2 separate regions of the Homo sapiens genome follow, and region 2 is linked to region 1. Evidence: fine-mapped expression QTL. A gene starts in region 1. The other region holds a variant in brackets. All regions are shown on one strand. Distances are from middle to middle.

Region 1 (15,555 bases):
AGTCCCTCCGCCTCCCAGCGACGGACGCCAAAGGGTCCCGGGCCGCCTGAGGCTCCTCCCCACCACAGCCATCTCGTTTATCGGACCAGGAGCAGGCATCCATGAGACCTCAGAGCTTCAGATCGAGGCCTTGGGGGGTCCGGGCCCCCCCAGGAAACACGGTGAGGCCCCAGCGCCTGCAGCCAAAGCTGGCACGATCTATGGGGCAGGTGCCGCTCTGCCTAGAAAAGCCAGGGGCTCTGCTGCCGTGCCCTCCAGAGCCCACAGCGGGCAGGACTCCTCCAGCACCACCACACCCAGTGGCCCGAGACCCCTCTGAGAACAGTGAGGCTGGTCCTCGTGCCGTTCCAGCCGGTGCCCGGCCAGTGGGGAGGACACAGCCTAGGAACCAGCTGCCTGAGACCAGGGTGCCTCTGGGCTGTCCTCCCGCGTGGCGGAGACCCCAAGCACGCAGCCACCCATTTCCGGAGCTGCAGGATAGAGCTTCCTCTTGATCTCTGTTTTTAAGCAGAAATTCATTGTGCAGAAAAGTCCTCCAGAGCTCTGTGGCCCCGCTCGGATCCGCTGGACCCCCATGCCTGGCTGATCCCTGCCCACGTGGGGCAGGCCCACATCTAACCCCCACAAGTCACTGCCTCACTGCACCTGCCAAGGCTGCCCTGGCGCTGAGTCCTGGGGTCCCTCCCGGAGTTCCTGGGAGAAAGGCGCCGTCGTGGCCGCCTCCCGCACGCCAGGCCCGGGCTCCACCGTGGGTCTCAGACGCCCTGCGGCACCGGCACCGTCTGCTTTAGCATGGGACCCCCCTCTGAGGGGTGGCCTGGCCTTCGGGGTCCCCACGCTCCTTTGCGAAGTCCACTGTGGGTGCCATCATGGTCTCCGGGACCTGGGCCAGCGGGAACGTGGGGGCACTGGGTGTGCTGATATAAAGTCGGCATTACTCAAGCTGCGTTCCGAGCTGCTCTCTCCCGTAGGATGCTCTGTTCTCTAAGTGCAGGTCGGGGAGCAAAGCCCCCGCCAGGCTGGCCCCACGCACTCCGCCACCGTGTGCTGGGGGCAAGGAGGTGGGACGGGGGTGGAGGAGAGTCCAGGTTGGGGCTGCCTGGTTGGGACCCCCCGCCCCGCGCCGCACATTTTCTGCCACAGGCCCATTCCCCAGATGCAACCTGTGCAGGTGGGACCTGTGGTCCCCGAACCCCCAGCTCGGAGTGAGGTGGGACAGAGTGTGGGTGTGCGTTTCCATCGGCCGGCCGGGCTGCGTGGGGGCTGCAGACACGGGCCCCGGGAGGGCTGCCATGGCCATCTGGGGGGGCAGCAGTGTGGGGGTGTTTGCTGACAGTGATGGGCCTGGCCAGAGAGGGCTGAGCTGGGGCAGGACAGGCCTTGAGGGCAGAGGGCCCGGGCACCAGGATGCCAGAGCGCGGGCCCTGCTCTCGTAACCGTGCCCTCCACCCAGGCAGAAACGTCCACTGCCTGGAGGGTCGTGTCCTTAGACACCTGCATCCCTGTCCCCAAAAACCCCCAGCCTGAGGTTTGCAGCCAGGGAGTATCTGGGGGAGCATTGGCTCTGCCCTGGGCCCTGGCCCAAGAAGTGTCCTGGGGCTGGGAGGGTCACTGGTCCTGGGGAGAAAGGGAGGGACTGGACAGCCCAAGGCCACTCTGAGCCCAGTACCCACCGCCCCACCTGATGCCCTGGGCCACGCCCCTGTGACGCGGGAGCCCCCAGACTCCTCCTGTGGGGAAGGAGACAGGGACCGAGATGGGAGCAGAGGGAAGGAGACAGGGACCGAGGTGGGGGCGGAGGGAAGGAGACAGGGACCGAGGTGGGGGCGGAGGGAAGGAGACAGGGACCGAGGTGGGGGCGGAGGGAAGGAGACAGGGACCGAGGTGGGGGCGGAGGGAAGGAGACAGGGACCGAGGTGGGGGCGGAGGGAAGGAGACAGGGACCGAGGTGGGGGCGGAGGGAAGGAGACAGGGACCGAGGTGGGGGCGGAGGGAAGGAGACAGGGACCGAGGTGGGGGCGGAGGGAAGGAGACAGGGACCGAGGTGGGGGCGGAGGGAAGGAGACAGGGACCGAGGTGGGGGCGGAGGGAAGGAGACAGGGACCGAGGTGGGGGTGGAGGGAAGGAGTCCACATCCCCCTGGAAACTCCACTCCTGCATTTGCACCAGGCTGGGCGTCTGGTTTGGAGGATAAAATCGGAAACAGGCACGAACAGCAGGTCCAGCCAGGCAGGGTCTGGAGGCCAGGCCAGACACAGACAGGCACCTCCCAGCCCACCCTCTGAGCAGCCCCCCAGGCCCCATCTCTCAATTCTGGGTCCCCTCCTCCTCCTCCCACCCAGTGGCCCAAACCAAAAACCCAGGGTCATCCTGACACCTCCACATATCCCCCTCAGCTGGCTCCCCACGTCCCCCACCTGCGCACTCGCGATTGGCCCTTGGGCAGCACGTGGTCAGCCAGGACCTGTGGCAGCGAGGGGCACGCCCTCCTCACTGGGCACAGGAGGGACACACTGAGCTGGGCCTAGGGGCGGCCCCAGCACGTCAGGGGCAAAGCTAGACCCAAGTGCACGTCCCGGAGCCCTGCTCCCCCGCACCGGCCTCCCCTCTGCACATCTGGGCCCTTGGGAAAGAATTCCAGTCCCACGGCCAACAGAGCCGCTGCATTTGAGGCAATGGCCCAGCACGGGGCGGGGCGGGGTGGGGCGAGGCCGGGGGCCCCACAGCAGCCTGGAAGGCCCCTCCCCGCACCGGCCGCACCACGTCCCCAGGCCTGGCAGTGCCAGGTGTGACCCGTAACCGAGGCCTGGAGGGGAAGGAGTCCCTGAGAGGGCGTGAGGAGACCGAGTGAAGGAGGTGAGGGGTCAGGTGCTCACACCAGCATCCATGTCTCAAGCATGGGCACGTGTGCTCACACACGCCCACACGCTCACCAGCCCAGCCTCCCGCCCACTGGCTGCGACGGAGGGGACCAGGCGGGCCCACCCCCTGCCCTGGAATCTGCCAGCCAAGCTGCTCTGAGCCTCCCGAGAGCCCTGAGAGACCGTCTGAGCTGAGAGAAGGGGAGCTGCTGGCTCCTCTCCTGCACAGGGAGGCCTGGCCTGGCGCCGAGACCACACATTCCTCCGGCCTTTCCTCACCTTTGCCTCCGGCACGAGTGTCAGCCGGGAGCCCAGAGTGACCTCAGTGCCAGGATATTCCCAGGAGCTGTCGGGAGGACGTTCCCAGAGCTGCAGGGGCCAGGGTGCTTCCTGGAGGCGGCATGTGACCCGAGTCACGGACCTCAGGAAGCAGGAGCCTCCGACGAGTGCTTTCAGGGCCTCACAGCGGCCCTGCACAGAGTCCCCATAGCCTCAGCCTCCCCCCACGGAGTCCCCATAGCCTCAGCCTCCCCCCACGGAGTCCCCATAGCCTCAGCCTCCCGGCACGGAGTCCCCATAGCCTCAGCCTCCCCCCACGGAGTCCCCATAGCCTCAGCCACCCCCCACGGAGTCCCCATAGCCTCAGCCTCCCCCCACGGAGTCCCCATAGCCTCAGCCACCCCCCACGGAGTCCCCATAGCCTCAGCCTCCCCCCACGGAGTCCCCATAGCCTCAGCCTCCCGGCACGGAGTCCCCATAGCCTCAGCCTCCCGGCACGGAGTCCCCATAGCCTCAGCCTCCCCCCACGGAGTCCCCATAGCCTCAGCCTCCCCCCACGGAGTCCCCATAGCCTCAGCCTCCCCCCACGGAGTCCCCATAGCCTCAGCCTCCCCGCACGGAGTCCCCATAGCCTCAGCCTCCCCCCACGGAGTCCCCATAGCCTCAGCCACCCCGCACGGAGTCCCCATAGCCTCAGCCTCCCCGCACGGAGTCCCCATAGCCTCAGCCTCCCCCCACGGAGTCCCCATAGCCTCAGCCTCCCGGCACGGAGTCCCCATAGCCTCAGCCACCCCTCACGGAGTCCCCATAGCCTCAGCCTCCCCCCACGGAGTCCCCATAGCCTCAGCCTCCCCCCACGGAGTGCCCATAGCCTCAGCCTCCCCCCACGGAGTCCCCATAGCCTCAGCCTCCCCCCACGGAGTCCCCATAGCCTCAGCCTCCCGGCACGGAGTCCCCATAGCCTCAGCCTCCCCCCACGGAGTCCCCATAGCCTCAGCCTCCCCCCACGGAGTCCCCATAGCCTCAGCCTCCCCCCACGGAGTCCCCATAGCCTCAGCCTCCCCCCACGGAGTCCCCATAGCCTCAGCCTCCCCCCACGGAGTCCCCATAGCCTCAGCCTCCCCCCACGGAGTCCCCATAGCCTCAGCCTCCCCCCACGGAGTCCCCATAGCCTCAGCCTCCCCCCACGGAGTCCCCATAGCCTCAGCCTCCCCCCACGGAGTCCCCATAGCCTCAGCCTCCCCCCACGGAGTCCCCATAGCCTCAGCCTCCCCCCACGGAGTCCCCATAGCCTCAGCCTCCCCCCACGGAGTCCCCATAGCCTCAGCCACCCCTCACGGAGTCCCCATAGACGCAGCCTCCCCCCACGGAGTCCCCATAGCCTCAGCCTCCCCCCACGGAGTCCCCATAGCCTCAGCCTCCCCCCACGGAGTCCCCATAGCCTCAGCCTCCCCCCACGGAGTCCCCATAGCCTCAGCGTCCCCCCACGGAGTCCCCATAGCCTCAGCCTCCCCGCACGGAGTCCCCATAGCCTCAGCCTCCCCCAACGGAGTCCCCATAGCCTCAGCCTCCCCCAACGGAGTCCCCATAGACTCAGCCTCCCGGCACGGAGTCCCCATAGCCTCAGCCTCCCCCCACGGAGTCCCCGTAGCCTCAGCCTCCCCCCACGGAGTCCCCGTAGCCTCAGCCTCCCCCCACGGAGTCCCCGTAGCCTCAGCCTCCCCCCACGGAGTCCCCGTAGCCTCAGCCTCCCCCAACGGAGTCCCCGTAGCCTCAGCCTCCCCGCACGGAGTCCCCGTAGCCTCAGCCTCCCCCCACGGAGTCCCCGTAGCCTCAGCCTCCCCCCACGGAGTCCCCGTAGCCTCAGCCTCCCCCCACGGAGTCCCCGTAGCCTCAGCCTCCCCGCACGGAGTCCCCATAGCCTCAGCCTCCCCCAACGGAGTCCCCATAGCCTCAGCCTCCCCCAACGGAGTCCCCATAGCCTCAGCCTCCCCCAACGGAGTCCCCATAGACTCAGCCTCCCGGCACGGAGTCCCCATAGACTCAGCCTCCCGGCACGGAGTCCCCATAGACTCAGCCTCTCGGCACGGAGTCCCCATAGACTCAGCCTCCCCCCACGGAGTCCCCATAGCCTCAGCCTCCCCCCACGGAGTCCCCATAGCCTCAGCCTCCCCCCACGGAGTCCCCGTAGCCTCAGCCTCCCCCCACGGAGTCCCCGTAGCCTCAGCCTCCCCCCACGGAGTCCCCGTAGCCTCAGCCTCCCGGCACGGAGTCCCCGTAGCCTCAGCCTCCCGGCACAGAGTCCCCATAGACTCAGCCTCCCGGCACGGAGTCCCCATAGACTCAGCCTCCCGGCACGGAGTCCCCATAGCCTCAGCCTCCCGGCACGGAGTCCCCATAGCCTCAGCCACCCCGCACGGAGTCCCCATAGACTCAGCCTCCCCGCACGGAGTCCCCATAGACTCAGCCACCCCTCACGGAGTCCCCGTAGACTCAGCCTCCCCGCACGGAGTCCCCGTAGCCTCAGCCTCCCGGCACGGAGTCCCCGTAGCCTCAGCCTCCCCCCACGGAGTCCCCGTAGCCTCAGCCTCCCCCCACGGAGTCCCCGTAGCCTCAGCCTCCCCCCACGGAGTCCCCGTAGCCTCAGCCTCCCCCCACGGAGTCCCCGTAGCCTCAGCCTCCCCCCACGGAGTCCCCGTAGCCTCAGCCTCCCCCCACGGAGTCCCCGTAGCCTCAGCCTCCCCCCACGGAGTCCCCGTAGCCTCAGCCTCCCCCCACGGAGTCCCCGTAGCCTCAGCCTCCCCCCACGGAGTCCCCGTAGCCTCAGCCTCCCCCCACGGAGTCCCCGTAGCCTCAGCCTCCCCCCACGGAGTCCCCGTAGCCTCAGCCTCCCCCCACGGAGTCCCCGTAGCCTCAGCCTCCCCCCACGGAGTCCCCGTAGCCTCAGCCTCCCCCCACGGAGTCCCCGTAGCCTCAGCCTCCCCCCACGGAGTCCCCGTAGCCTCAGCCTCCCCCCACGGAGTCCCCGTAGCCTCAGCCTCCCCCCACGGAGTCCCCGTAGCCTCAGCCTCCCCCCACGGAGTCCCCGTAGCCTCAGCCACCCCCCACGGAGTCCCCGTAGCCTCACAGCCCTGCACGGAGTCACCATAGCCTCAGCCTGCCCCACGGAGTCCCCATAGCCTCAGCCTCCCGGCACGGAGTCCCCATAGCCTCAGCCTCCCCCCACGGAGTCCCCATAGACTCAGCCTCCCCCGACGGAGTCCCCATAGCCTCAGCCTCCCAGCACGGAGTCCCCGTAGCCTCAGCCTCCCCCCACGGAGTCCCCGTAGCCTCAGCCTCCCCCCACGGAGTCCCCGTAGCCTCAGCCTCCCCCCACGGAGTCCCCGTAGCCTCAGCCACCCCCCACGGAGTCCCCGTAGCCTCACAGCCCTGCACGGAGTCACCGTAGCCTCAGCCTGCCCCACGGAGTCCCCATAGCCTCAGCCTCCCGGCACGGAGTCCCCATAGCCTCAGCCTCCCCCCACGGAGTCCCCATAGACTCAGCCTCCCCCGATGGAGTCCCCATAGCCTCAGCCTCCCAGCACGGAGTCCCCATAACCTCAGCCTCCCCCCACGGAGTCCCCATAGCCTCAGCCTCCCGCCACGGAGTCCCCATAGCCTCAGCCTCCCGGCACGGAGTCCCCATAGCCTCAGCCTCCCCCCACGGAGTCCCCATAGCCTCAGCCTCCCCCCACAGAGTTCCCATAGCCTCAGCCACCCCGCACGGAGCCCCTCACAGAGCTCCCACCCCTCCCCAGCTCTTGAGTCCCCAGCCCTCCCTGTCTGAAAGCCCAGCCCCAGCCCGCGCCCCGCTCTCTGAGCATCCACCCCTCCCTGTCTGAGCACCCAAATCCGCTCTCTGAACCCCCCTAACCCCCGACTGAGAGTCCTCATGGAACTGGCAGGGGTCCCCCCAACCCCTGACTGAGAGTCCTCATGGAACTGGCAGGGGTCCCCCCAACCCCCGACTGAGAGTCCTCATGGAACTGGCAGGGGTCCGGCCCTTCCTGAGCCCAAGTCCCTGTGCTCCTCCTCGGGGTGTTGCCCCCTGGCCTCTGCAGTCCTGGTTCCCACTTCCCAGCATCCCTTGGGCTCCAGGATGCCCGCGGCAGCCCTGGGGGAGCCTCTGGGTCCCTACTGAGGGGTCGGCGGGCACCTGCATGGGAGTTGCCTGAGGGCAGTCTGTGGGGTGGCCCGGCCAGCTCTCCCACTAGGGTGGGTCCCTCACTCCCAGCCCCACCCAGTGTGGCACCCCCCCAGGCTGGTGTGTGGAGTCCCAGCTCAGGTCCGGCCCAGGCCTCATGGCGGGGATGGGGCTGTGGCAGCCGGGTCGGACCTCCCCTTGCATGAGGTCCACTGGGCTGGGAGAGAGACGCCTCAGTGAGGTGGGGAGCTGGCAGCTGGACAGCCTGGGGGTGCAGCTCTACACCAGGCCCTCGGGCCCACAGCGGGGTGTGCGGGGGACGGGGCAGCCCATGCCACTGGCTGCTCCTCTGAGACCCACACATCCTCCATCCCAGCCCTGCCAGCCTCAGCCCCCAGACTCTCAACCAGCTCCAGCCCTGGTCTTTGCACAGACCAGTCCTGTAGTCTGCTAGGGCATGTGGACATGGCATGTGTGTGTGTGTGGACACAGGGCACGTGTGTGAGAGCATGTGGACATGGCATGTGTGTGAGAGTGTGGACACGGCGTGTGAGTGTGGACACGGCGTGTGTGAGTGTGGACATGGCATATGTGAGCTTCCGGACACGGCACGTGTGTGAGAGCCTGTGGACACGGGGGCATAGAGCGTGTGAACACATGGCCCATGTGTGAGAGCAGCCACGTATGTGTATGGATGAGGCAGGTGAGCACATGGGTGGGTGTGGGCAGGGAAGTGGCAGGAATGGGCTGTGAGGGCAGGCAGCAGTGAGCAAAGGGCAGGGGCAGGCTGGGCATAGGTTGTGGGGGGCTCGGGGAGGGCCCCTGCTAGGAGGCCCACCCAGGAGCTCAGGGGCCACAGGGACCTGGAACTGCGGTGAGCAGCTTCCAGCAGGTGCTCCAGCCTCCTGGGGCTATAGGGAGAGAGGGCTTTGTCCAAGCACACACCCCAGCCCAGACCTGCCCAGGCTGCAGCGGCTGTGCTGACCCCTACCCGGCTCCGACCCTCACCCCTCCCTCCCTGCCCTCCAGCTGCCTGGCCCGCCAAGGAGAGGATGAAGCCAGCCAATCCCTGAGGCTTGCGGCCACACCCTTGGCCCATAGGGTATAAATAGACCTGCTTGGGAGCCCACACCCAGCAACTCACACCTGCCTCAGACCAGAGCTCTGTGCGGGTGACGGCGCACGCATTCCTTGTGTCCCCGCCTGTCTTGGACAGAGCAGAAGCCACACCTGCCAGACCAGTGCCACCGGGACAGCTGCTGGTGGCCGGCCCCGGGGAGGGATACCTGCTGGGTGAAGCACAGGCCGGGCCGGGCCCGGAGAAGAGGAAGCAGACACTGCCACGGCAGGGCAGCCCAGGGCCTTGGAGCCCAACCGTGGCCGGCGAGGAGGACCACGCCCAGGCCCGCTGACCCCCGGCCACCAGGTAAGGCCAGCTCAGCCCGTGTTCACCCCTTACCTGCACAGGCTCAGGGTGGGGCACCATCGTGGAGGGGTGGGGCCTCGTGCCAAGGAACCGGTTCTGTGGGGTACACAGGCCGCAGAGCACAGTCCCCAGGTCCCGGTGCCTGGGGCACTCACGGCCTCACAGTGACGGCGTGTGACTCAGGTGGTCACAGTGACCTGTGTCATCCCGCCAGCCTGTCTGGGACTCACTGGCAAGTCAGGGGTGGGGCGGGGCAGTGCCAGGAGTCACTTCTGGGGCAGCCTCCTGGGCCCCACGGGGACGCACGGCCAGGCCCTTGAGTCTCACTGTCACCCTTGCCCACTTCCCTCCAGGTGGGACCCCTGTGGCTCCCTGCAGCGGATCCTGGGTGCAGGGGAGGGGCGGGAGGTGGAGCAGGGTCCCAGGTCAGCTGAGATGCCCACCTGAGCCATGCCCAGGGGCAGAGCAGCATCCCCCAGTGTCCGTCCCCCAGGGTCCCTGCCATGAAGTGGGATTGGGTCAGGGAGAAGAAACACCCACTCAGTGGGCGGCTGAGGGTGCCCTGACCATCACCTGACCATGAGGCAGTGGGCTGGCCCAGAGGGAATGGCTGGGCTTATCCAAGTCCCACCCCCACACTGTGCACATCAGACCCTCAGCAGCTAGACAAGCCGGCCCCGCAGGCCGCAGGTCGTGCCTGACGTGCACCTTCCTCGGGCACTGACCCCTGCCCCTGCCTGGGCCCTCCCTGTCGTCCCAAAGCCCCCGGGGCTCAGCCCGGTCCCCAGACCCAGAGACCCCCACACCCCACCCTCACATAGCTGCCTACAAATCAGGCCTGCACCGCCCAAGCCAGGCACCCATCCTGGGATCTGAGTTCAAACTCACTTCACTTGACTTGGAGTCCCTGGCCTGCCTGAGAGCCGTATCTGCCAGGGTCCAGGGCCCGCCAGCTCCCTTGGGGTGGCCCTGGCCGAGTCACCCATGCTCTGGGCGGCCTTTTCCACACTGTGGCGTTGTGTGAGTCCCGTGATGTGGGCCCAGCCTTGCAGAGCTCCGACATAAACAGTGACGACTGTGGCTATTGTCATCCTCACCATTATTTCTGCCCGGGCAGCAGGGCCAGCCAGGTGGGGCAGGGCCAACAGGAGGTGTCTGCCGAGCGGTCAGTGAGACCCCCCTACACACGGCCTGCATTCCCGGAGCAGGCCTGGGGCCCTGTGGGAGGCTCACCCCGGTGCAGCCATGTGATGGGGTGGAGAGGACAGGATTGCACGTGGGGCAGAATGACCTCCAGGGGCACCGGAGGAACTTTCTGGAGTGGCGCGCAGGAAACAGAGTCCTTCCCTGGGATCTCTGGGGCGAGAGAGGGGAGGGAGAGATAAAACACCACCAGAAAGGGGCGGCCGGTGATTGCTTACCACAGTCCCTGTCCCACAGCTCAGAGACATGTCGTCAGGCCAGCAGGTGTGGCACACGGCTGTGCCACCCCCTCGCCGGAGCAGCTCCATAGCCTCGATGCCCAGGTCCCCCAGCTCGGCCGGCAGCCCCAGGTCCCCTGGCACCCCTGGCTCGGAGAGGGTGGCCTCCCCCCTGGAGTGCTCCATCTGTTTCTCAGGCTATGACAACATCTTCAAGACACCCAAGGAGCTCTCCTGCACCCACGTCTTCTGCCTGGAGTGCCTGGCCCGGCTGGCGGCTGCTCAGCCTGTGGGCCGCCCCGGTGGTGAGGCTGTACCTTGCCCCTTCTGCAGGCAGCCCACGGCCGTGCCGCCCGCCGGAGCCCCCGCGCTGTGCACCAGCCGCCAGCTGCAGGCCCGGATGCCGGCGCATTTGCGGCGTGAGGAGCCTGTGTGGCTGGAGGGCACCAAGCTGTGCTGCCAGCCACTGCCCACCACACCTGGCCGCGAGCCCGGTTTCGTATGCGTGGACGTGGGTTTGAGCAAGCCTGCCGAGCCGCCCGCGCCCGCCCGGGACCCTGCCCCCCGCCGGGGCCGCCTGGCCCGCTGCTGGGCGCGCTGCAGGGACTGGAGGCGCATGGCACTGGTCTCTGCCCTGCTGCTGATGCTCTTCTGTGTGGCACTCTGGCCGGTGCAGTGCGCGCTCAAGACCGGGAACCTGCGCTGCCTGCCCCTGCCCCCCCGGCCCCCGGCCACCAGCACAGCCGCCTCCCCCCTCGGGCCTCTGACTGATAATTAGGGCCAGCAGCCTCTGCCCAGGTCAGCCGCCCTCGCCCAGCTCCATGGGGCGTCCCCCACTGGGGGGCCCAAGGGCACAGCAGCCACTGGAAGTCGGTCCCCGAGGACGCGAAAGGAGCCTGGCATCTCTGAGGACTCCACCGGGGCCCCACCAAGACCAGGCTCCATTTAGCTTGTCCACCCCTCATTCTCCAGGCTGGGTCCTGACGGGGTGGACAAGAGGATCCCCAAAGCCTCCAAGAACCACAGTCTCACCGGGCGCGGTGGCTCACGCCTGTCATCTCAGCACTCTGGAGGGCTGAGGCAGAAAGACCACTTGAGGTCGGGATTTTGACACCAGCCTGGCCAACATGGTGAAACCCCATCTCTACTAAAAATACAAAAATTAACCGGGCATCGTGGTGGGTGCCTCTTAGCTACTGGGGAGGCTGAGGCAGGAGAACTGCTTGAACCGGGGAGGTGGAGGTGGCAGTGAGCCAAGATTGCACCACTGCATCCAGCCTGGGCGACAGAGGGAGACCCTGTCTCAAAACAAAACAAAAAAAAACAGGCTCGTACAGGAAGGGTCCAGGAGAGCAGCTGGTCAGCATCCCCCCCACCCACACACCCTGTGAACTGCCTGCCAGGGAAGCCCCTTGCCAAGAAGGAAGGGGCCTTGCCGTGCTTCCACTCATGCTGACATTTCCCCGCAGGGCTGGTCCTGCCATTGGGTGGGGGTGCTCATCTTGCCCTCGGACTGTGGGGAGAGAGTGGAGGCAGGGCAGCCCCCCAGTGCAAGGTAACCACAGAAACTTCCAGCTACCCCTCCAACCTTGTGAATTGTACCTTTTAAAATAAATTATTTGTATCCATCTTTGGCAAGAGGGCCTCACCCTGGGTGCCCCTGCTGCAGCCTCAACCCAGAGGATACCCTGACAGAATTAGACTCCCAGCAGCCACTGGGACAGGTGGGCCCAAGGTTCTAGGGGGTCCAACTCCCAGCCCCTCTGGCTGCAGACAGGCTGGGGGTTTCTGGAGTTGGCTGGCGACTCAGCAATGTGAGGCTCCCCAGGGAGATGGGGAGAGGCCCAGGACACTTGGGGCAGGGCAGGCTGGACCAGGGGGAGGGCTTCAGCTTGGTTCAGAGCCCGGGGGCTGACAAAGGGGGCCTTTCTCTTCCCCCATCCTCTGCCGTGGCCATACTAGGCCACACCTCCAGGAAGTCACGCCCCATGGCCCTGCTAGGGTCCCTGACTGGAGAACCACAGAACCATGACCCCTGTGGGAACCCAGAAGCAAAGGTAACAGCCAGCGTGCAGCCTGCAGATCCACTGACTCTCCGGCAACTCCCAGGGCCAGCCTGGCTGGGGAAGAGTCAGAGGTCAGCTACGTGAGGTATCGGCAGGAGGCTCGCCAACCCCAGCCCTACCCCGTCTGTCATCAGCCCCAGGAATCCTGCACCACCAGGCAGGCACGGCCAGGAGGGCCCAGGCCAGGTCCAGCTCACGCAGGCCTCCTCAGCCTTCCCATCCCTGACCCCAGAGCCCAGGTACTTCCTGCTCCAACCAGCTGGGCCTCTGGTCCAGGGTGGGGAGGGCTCGGGAAGGCCCCACAGAAGCTGACTCCAGCTGTGGGGGCCACACCCACCCTTGCCCCAGGTCCCAGCGAAGACACAGAAGGGAGAACACAGCACTTTACCGGAAGGCTGTGAAAGCCGGTGATGTGGGGAGTGCAGCCACGGGTCACAGCAACATCACTCTGTGTCACACACACAGTCATGCCCACGCAGGCCCACACCCTTGTCATCGGCAGGGCCAGGCGCGTGACGCTGCACGGGTGGTCACATGAATATGTCACACACACCTCACTCCACAGACATCCACCCTGTGCCTGATGGGGCCGGGTCCTCACCGGGGCCACATCCCAGACCACGGGAGCAGGCAGGGCCGGCAGGCCGGAGCTGCGGTGAGGGCAGACCCGCACGGAGTGGCCGAGCTGGGGGCGCACGCGGGTTCACACGTGGTCACCGGTGGGCTTCGCAGCCTGTCGCTCCCTCTGCCGCCCCTGGACCTCCCTGAGCTGGGGACAAGCTTGTGGCTCTGTCCTGGACACAGTCCCGGCCCGCAGCTCCGGCCACACGCGGGCGCGGCTAGGCCGGGGGTTCCCTGCGGCTCCTCAGACACCCGCGGCTCCGCAGGTTCGCGTCCTCGCCGTCCCAGGGCTGCGGGGTTCTGCGCGCGGAGCAGCGGCTCAGCCCTGCACCCCGCACGTCCCAGTCCCTCCCAGAGGACTCCGGACCGGCCCCGGCGCTCCACTCACACCGGGGATGCCCGGGGAGCCGGGGGCTGCAACCCGATTAGCGGGGGGCGGCGCCCACGTTTTGGTTCTCGCGCTCCTGAGGCGGCTCGCGCTGGGGGGAGGGGCCGCCGGTCACCATGGCGACGCCCGCACAGGCCACGCCCCGCAGGGCCACGCCCCCACCTGCTCGCGCAGGCGCAGTTACTCGCCCCGGATGTGCCGCTGCAGCGCCAGGTACGTGAACTTGTACGGAGCCTCCGTCTGCACCATTCCCCAGTGCTGCCGCCAAACCAGCTGGATCGTCTTCGGGACGTCGGTGTCGCAGTCCAGCCCTGCGGACAAGCGCGCTTGGGGAGGGGCTACGGATGGGGGGAAGGTGCCGGCAGGCAGGGGCGGGGCTGCTGATGAGGGGCGGGGCTTGCCGGTAGCGGTGGGGTCGTCCTGAGGGGTGGGGTCGTCCTGAGGGGTGGGGTCGTCCGGAGGGGTGGGGTCGCCCGGAGGGGTGGGGCTATAGCAGGGCAGGGCGGGGGGACCCAGAGTGGAGCGGCTCGCCCTGCCTGCGGATGACGTCCACCAGGATGTCAATCACGATGATGGTGCCCGTGCATCCGATGCCCCCACTGAGGACAAACTAGGCGGCCTTTGACGAGAGTGGGGGGCGGGGGCGGGGGCGCCCCCGCCCACCCGATGGCTCCGCCCTCGTCGTCCCGCGTGGCCCCGCCCCGCCGCACCTGCACCTGCACAGCCCGCGTGGCCCCGCCCCGCCGCACCTGCATCTGCACAGCCCGCGTGGGCCCGCCCCGCCGCAGCTGAAGTGCACCACCATGGGCCCGGCCCGCGGCTTGCTGCTCTGGGCCCGGTTCACCTCGTCCCGGAAGCCGAGGACGCCGGCGGGATCGGCCCGGACGCCGTAGTCCGGCCAGCCGAAGTACTGGAAGTGCTGCACCGTACGCTGTGGCTCCTCCTGAGCGGGGCAAGCGGTGAGTGTGACCCCAGGGTGGGAGGAGGAGGCTGAGGCACAGCTGGGTTTCCGGGAGTGCCCAAGCGGAGGGGCTGCGGGAGCCAAGGCGAGCAGGAGGAGGAGGAAGGAAATGGGGAGGGGGCGCCGAGATGGCCCCAGGTGGCTCAGGTGCCTGGGGAAGGGAAGAGGGAGCTGGGGGCGGGCGAAGCAGGCTGTGAGGACAGTTATTTTATAAGGAAAAACCAAATGTGAGGGGTCCATGGGGTCCTGGAGGACCCCCCCACACACACTGGGCGGGGGCTGGAGGGAACACGAGGTAATCTGCCCGGAGCAGAAATGGGCGTCTCTGGTATACAACGGAGACCAAAGCTGCAGTTGGAGAGGTGTGTGGGAGGAGCGGCCGCCAGCCCAGGGCTGAGAATGTGGCCACGTCAGTGACCCCTGTCCAGGCTTGGAATGCACCTCCTGGGTTGAGGGGTGTGGAAGCCCCCAAAGGCAGTGGGGTTGGATGCAGGCAGGTGTGGGGTCTCCCAGTGCAGGCCGACAGCAGGCACGCTCCACAGCCGCCAGGCTCACCTGGCCCGGCCGCCACACCTGCAGCTCCCGCACGCAGTAGCCCTGGGCCTGGCCCTTGCCGAGGACGCGCATGTGCACACGGCCGAACTCTTGGCTGCCGGGCAGCTCTGGCCAGTCCCGGAAACACTTGTTCCGAGGGGAGCGCTTTGCATCAGCCTTGCTGGCAGCACCTCGGCACCCCGCCCCTGCGACCTGCAGAGACGCAGGTGTGTACGTGCAGCCACGGGGCTCTGTGGGAGCCTCCCCACTCCCACGGCGTCCCACAGCCTCCTTGGCCTGGTCGGGAAGGGCCTTGGGCAGCCGAAGATGCACGGGGTGGGATGGGCACTGGGAGCACTGGCACCGCACCCCTACCCGGCCCCGCTCCATCTCCCTGGTGGTCATGACGATGACACGCGTGTTCTCCTGGTGCACCGTGGCCCAGAAAGCAGCCACCGTGGCCTGCAGACAGGCCTGCAGACAGCCCTGCAGGCGATGTACACCCTGCGCCCGCGAGGCCCTGCCCCGCGGGGAGGAGCCACAGCGTACGGTGCAGCACTTCCAGTACTTCGGCTGGCCGGACTACGGCGTCCGGACCGATCCCGCCGGCGTCCTCGGCTTCCGGGACGAGGTGAACCGGGCCCAGAGCCGCGAGCCGCGAGCCGCGGGCCGGGCCCATGGTGGTGCACTTCAGCTGCGGCGGGGCGGGCCCACGCGGGCTGTGCAGGTGCAGGTGCGGCGGGGCAGGGCCACAAGGGATGTCCACCCTGCCCCTGCCATGGCCCGGCTCCTCCTCAGGGTCAGTCTGAAAGGGA
Region 2 (15,555 bases), 170 kb after region 1:
CGCAGCTGCCCCCGGGTCCCGCGCGCGCCGAGCCAATCCCGAGCCCGTCAGTCGCGCCCCCGCCAACCCCCCCACCCCCATCCCCGCCGTAACCCTTCCCTCTCCGCGGCGCGGCCGGGTGCTGGCGCGGAGCGTGGGGGCCCCGGTCTCTGCTCAGGCAGAGGGCGCAGCTGCGGGTCCCAGCGCCAGGACCAGCCCGGCCGCGCCGCCGCCCCTGCCCAGGACCCCCACCCGCGCCGGGCCCACCCTCGGTCCTTCCTCCCGGCCTGGAAGATAGCAGTGATGACACCACAAACGACCCCCGCATATACCAGCAACGGTGCGCCCGGGGGGCCTGACCCCAACCCCCGCATATACCAGCAACGGTGCGCCCGGGGGCCTGACCCCGACCCCCGCATATACCAGCAACGCCCGGGGGCCTGACCCCGACCCCCGCATATACCAGCAACGGTGCGCCCGGGGGCCTGACCCCGACCACCGCATATACCAGCAACGGTGCGCCCGGGGGCCTGACCCCGACCCCCGCATATACCAGCAACGGTGCGCCCGGGGGCCTGACCCCGACCACCGCATATACCAGCAACGCCCGGGGGCCTGACCCCGACCCCCGCATATACCAGCAACGGTGCGCCCGGGGGCCTGACCCCGACCCCCGCATATACCAGCAAAGGTGCGCCCGGGGGCCTGACCCCGACCACCGCATATACCAGCAACAGTGCGCCCGGGGGGCCTGACCCCGACCACCGCATATACCAGCAAAGATGCGCCCGGGGGCCTGACCCCGACCACCGCATATACCAGCAACGGTGCGCCCGGGGGCCTGACCCCGACCCCCGCATATACCAGCAACGGTGCGCCCGGGGGCCTGACCCCGACCACCGCATATACCAGCAACGGTGCGCCCGGGGGCCTGACCCCGACCCCCGCATATACCAGCAACGCCCGGGGGCCTGACCCCGACCCCCGCATATACCAGCAACGGTGCGCCCGGGGGCCTGACCCCGACCCCCGCATATACCAGCAAAGGTGCGCCCGGGGGCCTGACCCCGACCACCGCATATACCAGCAACAGTGCGCCCGGGGGGCCTGACCCCGACCACCGCATATACCAGCAACGGTGCGCCCGGGGGCCTGACCCCGACCCCCGCATATACCAGCAACGGTGCGCCCGGGGGCCTGACCCCGACCCCCGCATATACCAGCAAAGGTGCGCCCGGGGGCCTGACCCCGATCACCGCATATACCAGCAACGGTGCGCCCGGGGGGCCTGACCCGGTGCCCTTCATGAATCCCGTGGCCCAGGAAATGGGCTGAGCAGAATCCCACCTGCTGCAGGGCCAAACCCCCCTCCCTTCCCCCCTGCCCCTCATCCCTCCCTTCCCCCCTGCCCCTCATTCCCTCCCCTCCCACCTGTCCCCTCATCCCTCCCCCATCCCTTCCCCTCCCACTTGTCCCCTCTCCCCTCCCACCTGTCCCCTCATTCCCTCCCCCATCCCCTCCCCTCTCCCCTCCCACCTTCCCCTCATCCCCTCCCCCTACTCCCCTCTCCCCTGTCTCCTCTCCCCCACCCCCTCCTCCCCTCCCACCTGTTCCCCCATTCCCTCCCCCGTCCCATCGCCTCCCCCTTTTCCCTCCTCTCCCCCGCCCCTCCTCCCCCTCCCCTCCCTCTGTCACCTCCCCTGTCCCTTCCTCCTTTCCCTCTTCACCTTCAGTATCTTTGCCTCCTCCTCCCTTTGCAGACACACTGCACACAGGCCTCTCCCAGGCCCTGCTTTCCTTTGAACCATATCTTGTCTCTTTTCCCTTTTTCAGGGAAACTTCCAAAGAACTGGCTGTGGCGGACACCCTATCTTTCTGGCTCTGTGACCTTCCCCTTCCAGCTGCTGCCCCCACCAGCCTGCACCCCTGTTCTGAGAGGCCATCCGCACCTCTCGGTGCCTGCCCTCCTGCCCGCCCTCCTGTGGGCCTGGCCTGCTCCACACCTGCTGTCCACGAGGAGGACCGGCTTGTGCTGCCCTCCGACTTGGCCACACTGGTTCCTGCTGCCTGCAGCTTCCATTCTAACAGGTGTGGGGCTGATCACGAACAAATCCACTAATGAATAAATCAGAAAACTTGTAGGTAGTTATCTGTGGAGAATTAAGGTGATTGTCACTGGGTCAGTCTGGGTGTCTAAGGCCCCATCCTGACAGGGGAACTGTGAGCCTCGCCTTGGCCAGAGGGAGACCCTTCAGGTGGAAGGAACAGCCTGGGAAGTCCCGGGGGGCTTGGCGAGCAGGGGGCAGGGAGCCAGTGATGGGCCCTCCTCCCAGATCGGGGAGGGTCTGTACTCTCTCGGCTGGTCAGAAGGACCGGGCAGGAGGGAGGTGAAGAGGGTGTTTCTTAGCCCTGCGGGATCCCCGAGGAGGGGAAGTTTTCCTGAAAAAGGGAGGGTCCCATGGAGGAAGAGTCAGCTCCAGATGCTCCCTAATCCCAGAGAACACAGACTCCAGCAGGTAAAATCAGGTGCGCCCACAGCCTCACCTCTCCTCCTTGTCCCTTGAGGGTGGGCAAGGAAACAGACAGTGACCCCAGCCCCTCTGGCCAGTGCAAGAGGCTGCAGGGCCTGACATTCTCATCATGGAAAGAAGACTTTTTTTTTTTTTTTTTTTTTTTTAGGAGACACAGTCTCCCTCTGTTGCCCAGGCTGGAGTGCAATGGTGTGATCTCGGCTCACTGCAACCTCCACCTCTTGGGTTCAAGCAATTCTTTCACCTCAGCCTCCCCAGTAGCTGGGATTATGGGCATGCACCACCACACCATGCTAATTTTTGTATTTTTAGTAGAGAGATGGGGTTTCACCATGTTGGCCAGGCTGGTCTTGAACTCCTGACCTCAAATGATCCGCCCACTTTGGCTTCCCTAAGTGCTGGGATTACAGGCGTGAGCCATCATGTCCAGCCAATTTTTTTTTTTTTTAAGATAGGGTCTCACTCTGTCACCCAGGCTGACGTGCAGTGGTACTGTTTTGGCTTGCTGCATCCTGGGAAAGGAGAGTGTAACAGCACTTTAAGGAACAGAAGCCTTTCAATGGCCAGAGAGTGACAGAAAAGTCTTAGGGAGGTAGGGGAAAACGAGAGGCCTGGGAGCCGGGCTCCCGGGACGGCGGTGGCTCAGCCTTCTCTCCTGCGGAGGTGCACCCAGCCCATGCTCCCTGCACTTCTGGCCTCCTCGGGTGTGGTGAATGAGTGTGCTTAAAGGGGAAGCGACAGCCCATGCTCCCTGCACCTCTGGCCTCCTCGGGTGTGGTGAATGAGTGTGCTTAAAGGGGAAGCGACAGCAGACTCTGGCACTGGCTGTTCTGTCTGTGGCTAAGGAGAATGCCCGGGACGTGTGCTGCCTGCAGGGGTGGCAGGACACCAGCTGCAGAGACACCTCCTGTGCTGCCCTCCGGGGTGGGCTCCAGACTCTCTTCCCGGCTCCTGTGCACTTCAGGTGCGGGGGGCCAGCTGAGTTGAAGGGGAGAGGCAGCTGAGTTTCCGGCACTGTCCTAGCCGGCTCTCCTTCATGACCACAGAGACCACCTTGCTCAGAGAGCTGCCCAGGGAGCTGCTGACTAGGGACCCCCACAATTTTGCTGAGTGAGAAAGGGCTGAGGGTGAAAAGCAGGCAGGTCTGAAAGCCAGAGGGCATCTCTGGTTGCACACAGGATGCTCTCACCTCCAGCAGGAGGGTAGCAGAGCCCAAGGGACTAAACATGGAAGAAGGTGAAATACTCAACCAAGGCCAGAGGCCAGGGTCCTGGTTAGGAAAGCTGGAGGCCCTGGCGGACGCGGTGGAGACACCTGGGCAGACATCTGAGTCCCCACTCTTCCTGGAAACTCTGAGCCTATGCAATCAGCTCCTCCTTGGGCACTGGGCCTGAGAAAAGGCCAGCTCAACGGCACATGCTGGGCTGCTGCAGGACACAGCTAGTCCTGGCAAGAGGGTGGGTAGTGAGGAGGGCTTTGACCCAAGAAGATGGCCCTCCCGGGGCTGCCACTGAGGAGACTGAACATGCTAAAGGCCAAGGTCTGCTGTGGAGGCAGGGGTTGAAGCTCCAGGAGGCCCAGAAGGAGCGGGGCCAGCCTGGCAGCAGGCCAAGGGCAAGAGTGCCTGGTGGTGTGGATCTGGGTGGGGGCTTGGTGGGCCGGGTCAAGGGCAGGGCTGGGGGCCAGAGGGGTCCTACCCGTAGTTCAGGGAGATGGGAGGGTGGGCTTAGTGAGGATTTCAGACGTGGGCCTTCATGGTCTCCTGGGGGGTGGACGAAGCTGGTCGTGGTGGAGCCTGGGTGAGGGCAGAGGTGGTACACCCCAGAAGACCCTGCTCCAGGCCGCGGTGGGGTGGGCCCTGCAGCCAGCTTGACCTATTTATTCTATTGAGATGAAATTCACATAACAAAATTAATGACGTTAAAGCAAACAATTCAGTGGCATTTAGCGCTTTCATCTTGTCCTGCAACCCTGACCTCGACCTCGTCCCAGAACACGTCCTCACCCTGAAGGGGAACCATACACGTTAAGCAGTCGGTCCCTGTTGCCCCCTCCCGCGAGCTCTGGCAACCACGATGTCTTTTCTTTATCTGTGGATTCCCTGTTCTGGACATTTTCACGTTTCCCAGGCTCGTCCCTGTCGCAGCGACCGCCTGGGGCTGATGTTCCAGCTGCGCACTGGGCCGCCCTTTGCTGTGAACATTTGCCGCCGGCACGCGCCCAGTCTTCAGCTCTCTGGGGAGCGCCCGGGAGGGGAACTTCCGGGCCTGTGGGAACTTCGTGCTCAACTTTCTGAGGAAGGTCCTTTTGCACCGCGGCTGCACCCGCCCCGACAATGCGCGAGGGGGTCCAACGCCTCCATCTCCTCGGCAGCACTTACGTCCGCTTTTCTGAAATCACAGCCATTCTAGTGGATGTGCCTGGCTGGGTTTATGTCTGTTTTCTCGGTGAACGTGAACGGGGGTTTCGGGCACAGGCGGGGACAGCAGTGAGGAATGGGCGGACGCCCGGGCCCCCCTCACTGGGTGCCCTGCCGGGGTTCCCTGGGACGCGGTGGGGCGGGGAGGGGACCCAACAGCCTCCCCCGCCACGAACGTCCCCAACAGCCTCCCCCGCCACGAACGTCCCCAACAGCCTCCCCCGCCACGAACGTCCCCAACAGCCTCCCCCGCAGCCTTCCCGCACCCCCCGGCACCCCCGACCCTCCGGCCCCCTCCCCTCACCCGCCTCCCCGCGGCGGAGTCCGGCGACGCTCAGAACCGAATTTCCGCGGACAGATCCTCCCGGAACGTGAGCTCTTGACTTTGGAGCCCAGGAAAGACCCCGGCGCTCCGGGCACGCGGCCGTCGTGGCCGCGCGGCTCTTTGTGTTTGCGGGAGGCGGCGGCGCGAGGAGCTGTGGCGCCCCCTGGTGGCGGAGTGCGGCCTGCGCCGGGCGCTGCGGAAGCGGCCACGTTCGGAGGAGGCGGCGGCCACGTTCGGAGGCGGCCACGTTCGGAGGAGGAGGCGGCCGCGTTCGGAGGAGGAGGAGGCCGCGTTCGGAGGAGGCGGCGGCCGCGTTCGGAGGAGGCCACGTTCGGAGGAGGAGGCGGCCACGTTCGGAGGAGGCCACGTTCGGAGGAGGAGGCGGCCGCGTTCGGAGGAGGAGGCGGCCGCGTTCGGAGGAGGCCACGTTCGGAGGAGGAGGCGGCCGCGTTCGGAGGAGGCGGCGGCCACCCGGGCCTGGCGGTGGAGGGGGAGGAGGAGCAGAGGGCGGGGCCGGGGCCGGCGGCCTCTTTGGACCCCGCGGCTTTGAGGGGGCCCCGGCACTCACGCCCTGACCCTGGCGTCCTGAGCCTGCGTCCAAGGGGTTGCCACCTGCCCCGATGCCGCCCCCCACCCCCCCACCCTCTGCTGCGTCCTGGGCTCTACACCCACTGGGGTGGAGGGCTCGCTTCTAATAAAAACGGCAGGACCAGGAAGACCAGGACCCCGGGCCCCTGGGAGTCGCGCTGTCCTCTGCACTGGCCCCTTGTGCATCCTTGTCCCCCTCAGCCATTCCAAAGCCCCGGCCCTCCGCCCCAGGCCTCCCATCCTCCACTCTGAGTGCAGCAGGAACCTCGTGAGATGAGCATGTGGAGGGAGCTCCCCGGGATGCTGGGCTGGGCACAGGGTCTGCAGGGGCCGACGGCCCCTAGGCTGACCTTCCAGAGCTCCCTCTCCAGCCACCCGGGCTCGGCCTGCTGGGAACAGAGCTGCCCCAACCTTGTGCCCGCTGGGCCTCTGTGCAGGGTTCCCAGGACTGCCTTCTGGACACCTTCCCTGCTGGGGTTCTGACAGCGGGGTGGACAGCCTTGCCCAGCCTCAGGGCCGTGCAGCGCCAGGGGTAAATGTGGCTCTCCTTGCACCGCTGCGCCTAGGGCTGCCCTAAGGAAACACAGTCGGTCTCCAAGGCTGGGGCTGCCTCCATGGATGCAGACGGCTCACTGGGGGACTTGAACATCTGTGGATTTTGGTATCTGTGGGGATCCTGGAATCAGTGCCCCACAGATACTGAGAGATGACTGTACCACAGACTGGGTAGGTTAAACAGAAATTAATTTTCTCACAGTTCTAGGGGCTGGAAGTCCAGGGTCAAGGTGTGAGCTGGGCCTTTCCTGGCGAGGGCTCTTACCTGGCTTGCAGATGGCCGCCTGTTCTGTCCCCACACGTCGGAGACAGGGAGTGGGTGCTCTGGTGCCTCTTTTATAAGGACACGAATTCTATCAGATCAGGGCCCCACCCTTAGGGCCTCATTTGACGTTAATTACTTTCTTAGAGGGCCCGTTGAACACTTGTTCAATGAACCAGTTGACGAAAAAGATCACAGTCACACAAGCTAAACCGCAGCACACACCACGCAGTGGTGGGGAGGTGGTGCGAAGTCAGAGTGTGTGTCCCCCCGCCCCAAATTCCTGTGCTGAGGCCCTAACCCCCAGGACCTCAGAATATGGTTGTTTGGAGATGGGGTCTTTAACGAGGCGATTAAGGTGAAATGGGGTCATGGGGCGGGCCCTGATACAATGTATAAGAAGAGGAGATGAGGATTTAGGGAGAAGACGGTGTCCACAAGCCAAGGAGAGGCCTCTGGAGAAGTCAGTCTGTGGACACCGTGACCGCGGACCTCCAGCCCCCAGAATTAGCAAATAAACGCTTGCTG[A/G]AGACGCCGCGCAGCCGGCGGGGCTCGGTTATGGCGGCGGCACTGACTAGCACAGGGGCAACTCTTCAGCCCCTCACACGGACCCGCATCCCGGGCCCCCTCGTCCCCTCACGCATGGGCACCCTCTGTATCCAAATCCAGTCTACCTTTCAAAGGAGGAATCTTGAACCTGGATTGACCTCCCAGAACTCAGGTGAGGGGGGATTATTATTATGACGATTTTTTTTTTTTTTTGAGACAGAGTTTCACTCTGGTTGCCCAGGCTGGGTGCAATGGCGCGATCTCGGCTCACTGCAAGCTCCGCCTCCCGGGTTCATGTGATTCTGTCTCAGCCTCCCGAGTAGCTGGGACTACAGGCACCACCACGCCCAGCTAGTTTTTTTGCATTTTTAGACGGGGTTTCACCATGTTGGCCAGGCTGGTCTTGAACTCCTGAGCTAAGGTGATCCACCCACCTCGGCCTCCCAAAGTGCTGGGATTACAGGCATGAGCCACCGCTCCCGGCCTATTATTACTATTAATTAGCCCCACAAACGCACCCCTCTCTCCTGTCTGGGAGCCCAGCCTAGGTTCTCCTTCTAGGCAGTGCAGGGCAGTGTGGGCTGGAGCATTGGTCAGTGTTGGCCAGAATGGCCGTCCTTCCTCTGAGACGAGGGCCCAGGAGATGAGCGGGGGGTGCTCTGTCCACTTCCAGGTTTTGGGCTCTGTTGGGAGACACCCAGGAGTTGCCCCTCCTGTAGGTGACCCCGAGTGCTCCTGAGCTGTACAGTCGCATGGCACCTCCGGAGGGGAAGTCACCCTCCTGGGGCCGCTAAGTCACCTGGTGTCACACACCCACCTCCAGCCGCCTCGCTCTCTCCACCCAGGGTCTAGCATGAAGACTGGCCTCAAGATGAGGTGCTCATGGGCACCTCCCAGACCCACACCGCACCCTGATGTTTCTTGGTAAACAGGGTTGCCTACATTTCATGCCTAATTTGTGTTAACCGAAGAAATTCATATTTTAAACATTTTGCATAACTGGAAATGTATTCCAAAATGTTTCACTTTTGACATAGTTTTGTGAAAAGGTGAAAACAGGACACGCTTGTGTACACACATGCCTACATGGAGGTAGGGAAGCATGTAGTCAGCACTCCTAAAAGCAGCCCTCGAGTGTCTGCTCCGTGTGGGCATTAGGAAAGGGAGGAGCAGGTGGGGTGGCTGTTGCCACCCTGAGTGTCAGGGAGTTTATGCACCATCTTTACCGCTAGACTGTGAGCTCCTTGGGGGCACACCGAGTCTCTGTCACGATGGATTTGCCTAGCAGGTGCTCTGTAAACACTTGTTCAATGAACCAGCTGACGAAAAAGATAAAACGCTCCATTTACAGGCCCAGCAATAGTAAAACGAACACTGCTGTGGCTCCCACTTTGAGAACGCATGTTGCAAATGCGTCATATGTCCTGTGAGTGACACACACTCTCTCCACAAACTCCAGCCTGGCTTCTCAAGGCCTCCTCTGGGCAAAGCCCCGTCTTTGGTCTGTGAAGACTTGGATAAAACAGCAACATAGTTTCTCACAGCCCAAGGGTCTGCCATCGCCACATGCCCACCTGAGCAAACTGAAGGCTGTGGAAGAAACTCCTGTTCCGACACCTGAGGAGACACCTGGGCAGCTGCCAACCAGGTGGGCTGAATGCACATGGACCAGCCCCTGCCCACCTCCACTGAGCCCCTGGTTTCCCTCTTTTCTTGTACTCTCTCTGTTTTCACTTTACATACACTCTTTTTTTATTTTTTGGACACAGCGTTTCACTCTGGTTGCCCGGGCTGGAGTGCAGTGGTGCAATCTTGGCTCACTACCACCTCGACCTCCGAGGCTCCAGCGATCCTCCCACCTCAACCTCCCAAGTGGCTGCGACTACAGGTGTGCGCCACCACACCTGGCTAATTTTTGTATTTTTAGTAGAGATGGGGTTTTGCCATGTTACCTAGGCATGTCTCCAACTCCTGAGCTCAAGTGATCCACCAGTCTTGGCCTTCCCAAGTGCTGGGATTGCAGGTGTGAGCCACCATGCCCAGCCTACTAAATAAACTCTTTTTAAAGAACGGTTTTAGATTCACAAAACAATTGAGAAGACGGAACAGAGTTTACAAACGCCTGGCACCCAGTTACGCTGGTACTAACGTGTTACATTAGCGTGGCACTTGTTACAACTACTTGTTACAACGAATGCACCAATATTGATGGATTCTTATTAACTAAAGGCCACATTTTATTCAGGTTTTCTTAGTTTTTACATAATGTCCTTTTCTTTTCCAGGATCCCAGGATATATTCCATTTAGTAATCAAGTCTCTTTAGGTTCCTAAACTGTGAGTTTTTCAGACTTTCCTTTTTCCATGACCTTGGCAGTTTTGAGGAGGGCCAGTCAGGTATTTTGGAGAATGTCCCTCAATTAGGATTTGTCTATTTTCCTCACGATTATACTGAGGTTCTGGTTTTTTTTGGGGAGAAAGACCCAGAGTCAAGTGTGCAGAGGTCAAGTGATCACTGCCGATGTTAACCCTGGTCCGTCTTCACTCCACCACTGACCTCCACTCTGCACTCCTGAGAAGGAGGTCACTGCGATGAGCCACGTTGGAAGAAGGAGGTCGCTGCGATGAGCCGCGTTGGAGAGGTGGGGAGTTAGGCTGGATCTCCTCAAGAGTGGAGCCTCCACTTAGGTTATTTAGAACTATTCTGCACTGGAGATTTGTCTGTTCTCCCCCATGATAGATATTTAACCTCACGTTTACATATCAGGATGGACTCAAGTTCCCTTTAAAATGTGGGGTGACTGTGGGGGCAGGGAGGTCTGTGAAGGGGCAGGGTCACCTGTTGCCATGAGGAGGGTGCTGTTTGTGTATGTGACGCTGTGTGTGGGAGGCCTTGGGCCTGGGATGGTGTGGAAGGGCCAGCGCAGGAGTCTGAGTGGGCTGGCATCTCTGGCCTCAGCCAGCAGGACCACCCCCTGCTTACTTGCCCAGATTTTATCTCCAGCATCTCCTTTATCCTCATTCCTCACACTGGTTTGGTCTCCCATCCCACCCCATCCCTGCATCCCATCCTGTTTCAGCCAGTGTCCCACTTCCTGGGCTGGTACCCATCTCCCTGCAGCCGGGGTGCACGTGCTGAGCCATCAGTGGACCTGTCTGGCCACAGTGTGGGCCTCTGTGAGCCATGGGATGAGCCAGGCTCCCTGGGGGACAGTGGGGCAGGAGTACAGCTGACGATGCCACGCTGTTGTGCTAAACATCTTCTGATTTTTTTCAGAAGAAGCCAGAAATCCAGATTTTTAAAACATGGAATCTCCTTAATCGCCCTTTCAGAATCAGCATCCTGGTGTGCCAGGCTCGTCCTGGGTCTCCAAGCGATTTCCCCCTTCGTTCCCCACTCTCTCTCATGTCCCTGAAACCCCTCGGACACCTGAGCTGATGTATTGGCCGCTCGTCCCCATATCTGCCACGGGGCTCCATGCCACGTGCTTTCTGCTCAGGCCCGTGTTATTGGACTGCAGACCTGGGGTGAGTGCCCGTCATCCAGCACTGATTTGGATCCATCTGTGGACGCCGTGTCTGAGCACTTAGGAGTATTCCGTGCAGGCACCCCCCATTCTGGTTTGCTTATTCCCTCACTGTGGGCCAGAAGGTGCCCCCAGCCGGGCGCGGTGGCTCATGCCTGTAATCCCAGCACTTTATGGGAGGCCGAGATGGGCGGATCACGAGGTCAGGAGATCGAGACCATCCTGGCTAACATGGTGAAACCCCGTCTGTACTAAAAATACAAAAAATTAGCCAGGCACGGTGGCGGGCGCCTGTAGTCCCAGCTACTCGGGAGGCTGAGGCAGGAGAATGGCGTGAACCCGGGAGGCGGAGCTTGCAGTGAGCCGAGATCGCGCCACTGCACTCCAGCCTGGGTGACAGAGCAAGACTCCGTCTAAAAAAAAAAAAAAAAAAAAAGAAGGTGCCCCCAACTCCCAGGATCTGAAGCAAAGCTGAAATGAGCGCGCCCACAGCTGTTCCCTCGCAGTTCCGGAAGTGGCCTGGAGCAGAGGCTGCATCACAGGACGTGAACACTTCACGTTGCCGAGTGCCTGCAGAGTGCGTTCTGGAAGACGCCCATCCGCTCACAAGCTCCCAGTGGTGCCTCAGGACCTCCACCTGTCACATGTTTGCCGACCGCTGTGTACATATAAGGGGTACAGTGGTGTGTGACTTTTGTTTTTTAATGCATTCAGTTGGAAGAGTTTAAATGTTGAAATGAGAATGACTTAATATTGGTTACTGTTGGGAACAGGCCCCCCAAAATCTGGCCATAAACTGGCCACAAAACTGGCCATAAACAAAATCTCTGCAGCACTGTGACATGTTCATAATGGCCCTAACGCCCACGCTGGAAGGTTGTGGGTTTACCGGAATGAGGGCAAGGAACACCTGACCCGCCCAGGGTGGAAAACCGCTGAAAGACGTTCTCAAACCACAAACATAGCATGAGCGATCTGTGCCATCAGGGCATGCTCCTGCTGCAGATAACTAGCCAAACCCACCCCTTTATTCCGGCCCATCCCTTCATTTCCCGTAAGGGATACTTTTAGTTAATAGAAACAATGCTAATGACTGGTTTGCTGTTACTAAATATGTGGGTAAATCTCTGTTCGGGGCTGTCAGCTCTGAAGGCTGTGAGACCCCTGATTTCCCACTTCACACCTCTGTATTTCTGTGTATGTGTCTTTAATTCCTCTAGTGCCGCTGGGTTAGGGTCTTCCTGACCGAGCTGGTCTCTGCAAGTGGCGTCCATCGTGGGGGCTCGAATCCAGGTCGAAGGGTCGCCAGAGCGACGGTTGGAGAACGTGGAACTAGCTGGAGGACACCTGAGTACTCTTAAAGCCATCCCCGTGGTGAGTAAGAAGGGGAGCTCGGAAGCATCAGGGTAACAATGGGACAGGCGTGGGGTCTGGTTCGTTTCACCTTGGAACCTTTTCACACTGATGAGGAGGAGGAAGGAGAGTATAGCGACGTAACAGAAGAGGTTACAGACCAGGTTTGTTTGCCAGCTAAAGCTGAAGCGGCAAAGGAGGGAGAGGTTCATCCCTACCCTTCTGCACCCCCTCATTATTATTTTGAAGAAAATGACCCTCCAGGTATTTCTTTTCCAGAGGACTGTGGGCGAAAAGTAGTTGCCCCAGTGACTGAGCAGCGCCTGGAGCGACTGCTCTTAGTTCTATTCAGGCAGGAATTCAGCAAGCTAGAAGAGAGGGTGATTTAGAGGCTTGGCAGTTCCCTGTTAGAATACACCCCCCAGATCAACAGGGAGATATTATAGCTACATTTGAACCTTTTCCTTTTAAATTACTCAAAGAATTTAAAGAAGCTATTCATACTAAAAAAGAATGTAGAAAAAAAATCAGTGAGTCGGCTGTCAGATAGGGGAAAAAAGAGAACTGCTAAGCTGAAATATGTCCAAAATGTAAAAAAGGAAATCATTGGGCTAACCAATGTCACTCTAAGTTTGATGAAGAACGGAACCCGATTTCGGGAAACACCATGAGGGGCCCATCCTAGGCCCGTTCTAAACCGGGGCATTTCCAACTCAGGCCATTCCCTCCCCACCGTACAATGTCTGTCCCCTGCCACAGCTGGTAGTGTTGCAGTAGATTTATGCTGCACAAAAGCTGTGAGCCCTCTGCCTGGGGAACCCCTGCAAAAGGTCCCAACAGGAGTCTGTGGACCCTTGCCAGCAGGGACGATAGGATTACTTTTAGAAAGGTCTAGTTTAAGTTTAAAAGGGGTACAAATACATACAGGAGTCACTGATTCAGATCACAATGGGGAAATTCAAATTGTTATATCTACTTCTGTTCCCTGGAAAGCAGAGCCAGGAGATCGGCTCCTGATTGTGCCATATGTGGGAATGGGGAAAAGTGAAATTAAATGAACAGGAGGATTTGGAAGCACAAATAAACAAGACAAAGTGGCTTATTGGGTAAATCAAATTACTGATAAACGTCCTACCTGTGAAATAACTATTCAGGGAAAGAACTTTAAAGGTTTGGTAGATACAGGAGCAGACATTTCAATTATTTCTCTACAGCAGTGGCCGTCCGCGTGGCCAATTCAACCCACTCAATTTAACATAGTTGGAGTTGGTAAAGCCCCTGAAGTATATCAAAGTAGTTATATTTTGCATTGTGAAGGGCCCAATGGACAACCTGGGACTATTCAACCAATTATAACTTCTGTACCTATAAATTTATGGGGGAGAGATTTATTACAACAATGGGGAGCACAAGTTCTAATTCCAGAACAATTATATAGCCCTCAAAGTCGACATATAATTCATGAAATGGGGCATGTTCCTGGTATGGGACTAGGAAAATATTTGCAAGGTTTGAAAGAACTGCTTCAAGTGGAAAGACAAAGTTCCTGCCAAAGATTAGGATATCATTTTTGACGGCGGCCGTTGTTAAGCTTCCAGAACCTATACCTTTACAAATGGTTAACAGATAAGCCAATATGGATAGAATAATGGCTGCTAAGCAAAGAGAAACTGGACGCTTTAGAGAAATTAGTTACTGAACAATTAGAAAATGGGCACATAGCTCCAACATTTTCCCCTTGGAATTCTCCAGTTTTCATAATTAAGAAAAAATCAGGTAAATGGAGAATGTTAACTGACTTAAGAGCCATCAATTCAGTTATACAACCTATGGAAATATAACAGCCAGGATTGCCTTCTCCTACTATAATTCCAAAAAATTGGCCTTTAATAGTCACAGATTTAAAAGACTGTTTCTTTACTACCCTTTTAGCTGAGCAAGACTGTGAACGATTTGCATTTACAATTCCTGCAGTAAACAACCTGCAGCCTGCTAAGCGTTTTCATTGTTTCACAGATGGGTCCAGTAATGGTAAAGCTTCTTATTCTGGATCAAAAGGTAAAGTTTTCCAGACGCCCTATATTTCAGCTCAAAAAGTGGAGCTTGTAGCTGTAATTGAGGTATTGACTGCTTTTGATATGCCTATTAATGTGATTTCTGATTCTTCATACATGGTTCATTCCACACAGTTAATTGAAAATGCTCAGTTACGATTTCATACAGATGAACAACTGATAATAAAAACAAAAAAGGGGGGAAACAGGGATTACGGGACAGCCCAGACACAATTGAATCTTGCATTATTAACTTTCCATTTTTCGAGCCTTCCCAAAGGCCAGATGTTACCAGCAGCTGAACAGCATCTACAGAAACCAGCTGCAAAGACACAAGCAGAACAACTGGTTTGGTGGACAGATCCAATAACAAAAAGTTGGGAAATAGGTAAAATAATAACTTGGCGTAGAGGTTATGCTTGTGTTTCTCCAGGACCGAATCAACAACTGATTTAGATACCATCAAGACACCTGAAACTTTATCATGAGCCAGATGCCGAGAAAGAGATTAAAAGCACAATCATCATTGAAATTACAGAGCTTCTGGCTGGGCGCGTGGCTCACGCCTGTAATCCCAGCACTCTGGGAGGCCGAGGTGGGCGGATCACAAGGTCAGGAGATCGAGACCATCCTGGCTAACACGGTGAAACACCGTGTCTACTAAAAATACAAAAAATTAGCTGGGTGAGGTGGCGGGCGCCTATAGTCCCAGCTACTCGGGAGGCTGAGGCAGGAGAATGGCGTGAACCCGGGAGGCAAAACTTCAGGTTTTGCCAAGAATGACACTGTAAATGTAACAAAGCTTCCGTGCTTGTTAGTGAACACCAACTCAGCTACTCTCCTGTATTCGGACATCAGGATGAAATGAAAAGAACAAGCGGGCCGGGCGTGGTGGCTCACGCCTGTAAACCCAACACTTTGGGAGGCTTAGGCAGGCGGATCACCTGAGGTTGGGAGTTCGAGACCAGCTTGACCAACATGGAGAAACCCTGTCTCTACTAAAAATACAAAATTAAATGGGCGTGGTGGCACATGCCTGTAATCCCAGCTACTTGGGAGGCTGAGGCAGGATGAGTGCTTAAACCCGAGAGGCGGAGGTTGCAGTGAGGCGATATTGCACCATTGCACTCCAGCCTGGGCAACAAGAGTGAAACTCCGTCTCAAAAAAAATGAAAAAATAAAAATAAAAAAAGACCCCCAACCTTGTCTAGACTGTGGGTTTCAGTTTCACCCCAGGGGGATCCTGGTTGGGTTAGAACCCTGAATCTGGTTTGAGTTCAAATCCTAAAGAATAAAGGGAATAAAGGCTGCAGCCACTGAGATACTCAATCTGGTCTGGTTCTGGCTTTTGTGTGTCTATCTGTATTTTTGGTCTAAAATATTTGGCCCAACAGAGGTTAAAGGCTTTGATGGT

Which allele goes with the higher level. Positions count from the first base shown, and alleles are read on the strand shown. Sizes are in standard deviations (SD) of each study's normalised expression.
As copies of A replace G in region 2, the expression in monocytes after Pam3CSK4 of the gene that starts at base 8,459 in region 1 goes down (moderate effect, 0.55 SD a copy in Quach 2016).

What was found.
Region 2: its variant is fine-mapped to the expression of RNF223 in monocytes after Pam3CSK4 (Quach 2016, PIP 0.95).

The regions. Positions count from the first base shown.
Region 1 is chr1:1,067,210-1,082,764 of GRCh38, reverse strand. It overlaps RNF223 (ring finger protein 223), which reads left to right and starts at 8,459. Exons shown (of 2, transcript NM_001205252.2): 1 at 8,459-8,749; 2 at 10,190-11,798. The coding sequence starts at 10,199. The coding sequence ends at 10,948. C1orf159 (chromosome 1 open reading frame 159) reads left to right here. Exons shown (of 10, transcript NM_017891.5): 10 at 1-942. LOC105378948 (a long non-coding RNA gene) reads left to right here and starts at 13,428. Exons shown (of 5, transcript NR_168433.1): 1 at 13,428-14,204; 2 at 14,725-14,967. RefSeq lists silencers at 665-844, 2,474-2,573, 2,634-2,713, 13,112-13,511, 13,632-13,701 and 1 more and enhancers at 862-1,563, 1,564-2,266, 8,267-8,766, 12,702-13,467, 13,439-13,553.
Region 2 is chr1:894,640-910,194 of GRCh38, reverse strand. LOC284600 (a long non-coding RNA gene) reads right to left here and starts at 5,080. Exons shown (of 5, transcript XR_007065342.1): 1 at 1,983-5,080. RefSeq lists silencers at 5,326-5,435, 12,067-12,227. The variant A/G (reference allele first, on the strand shown) is at 7,188.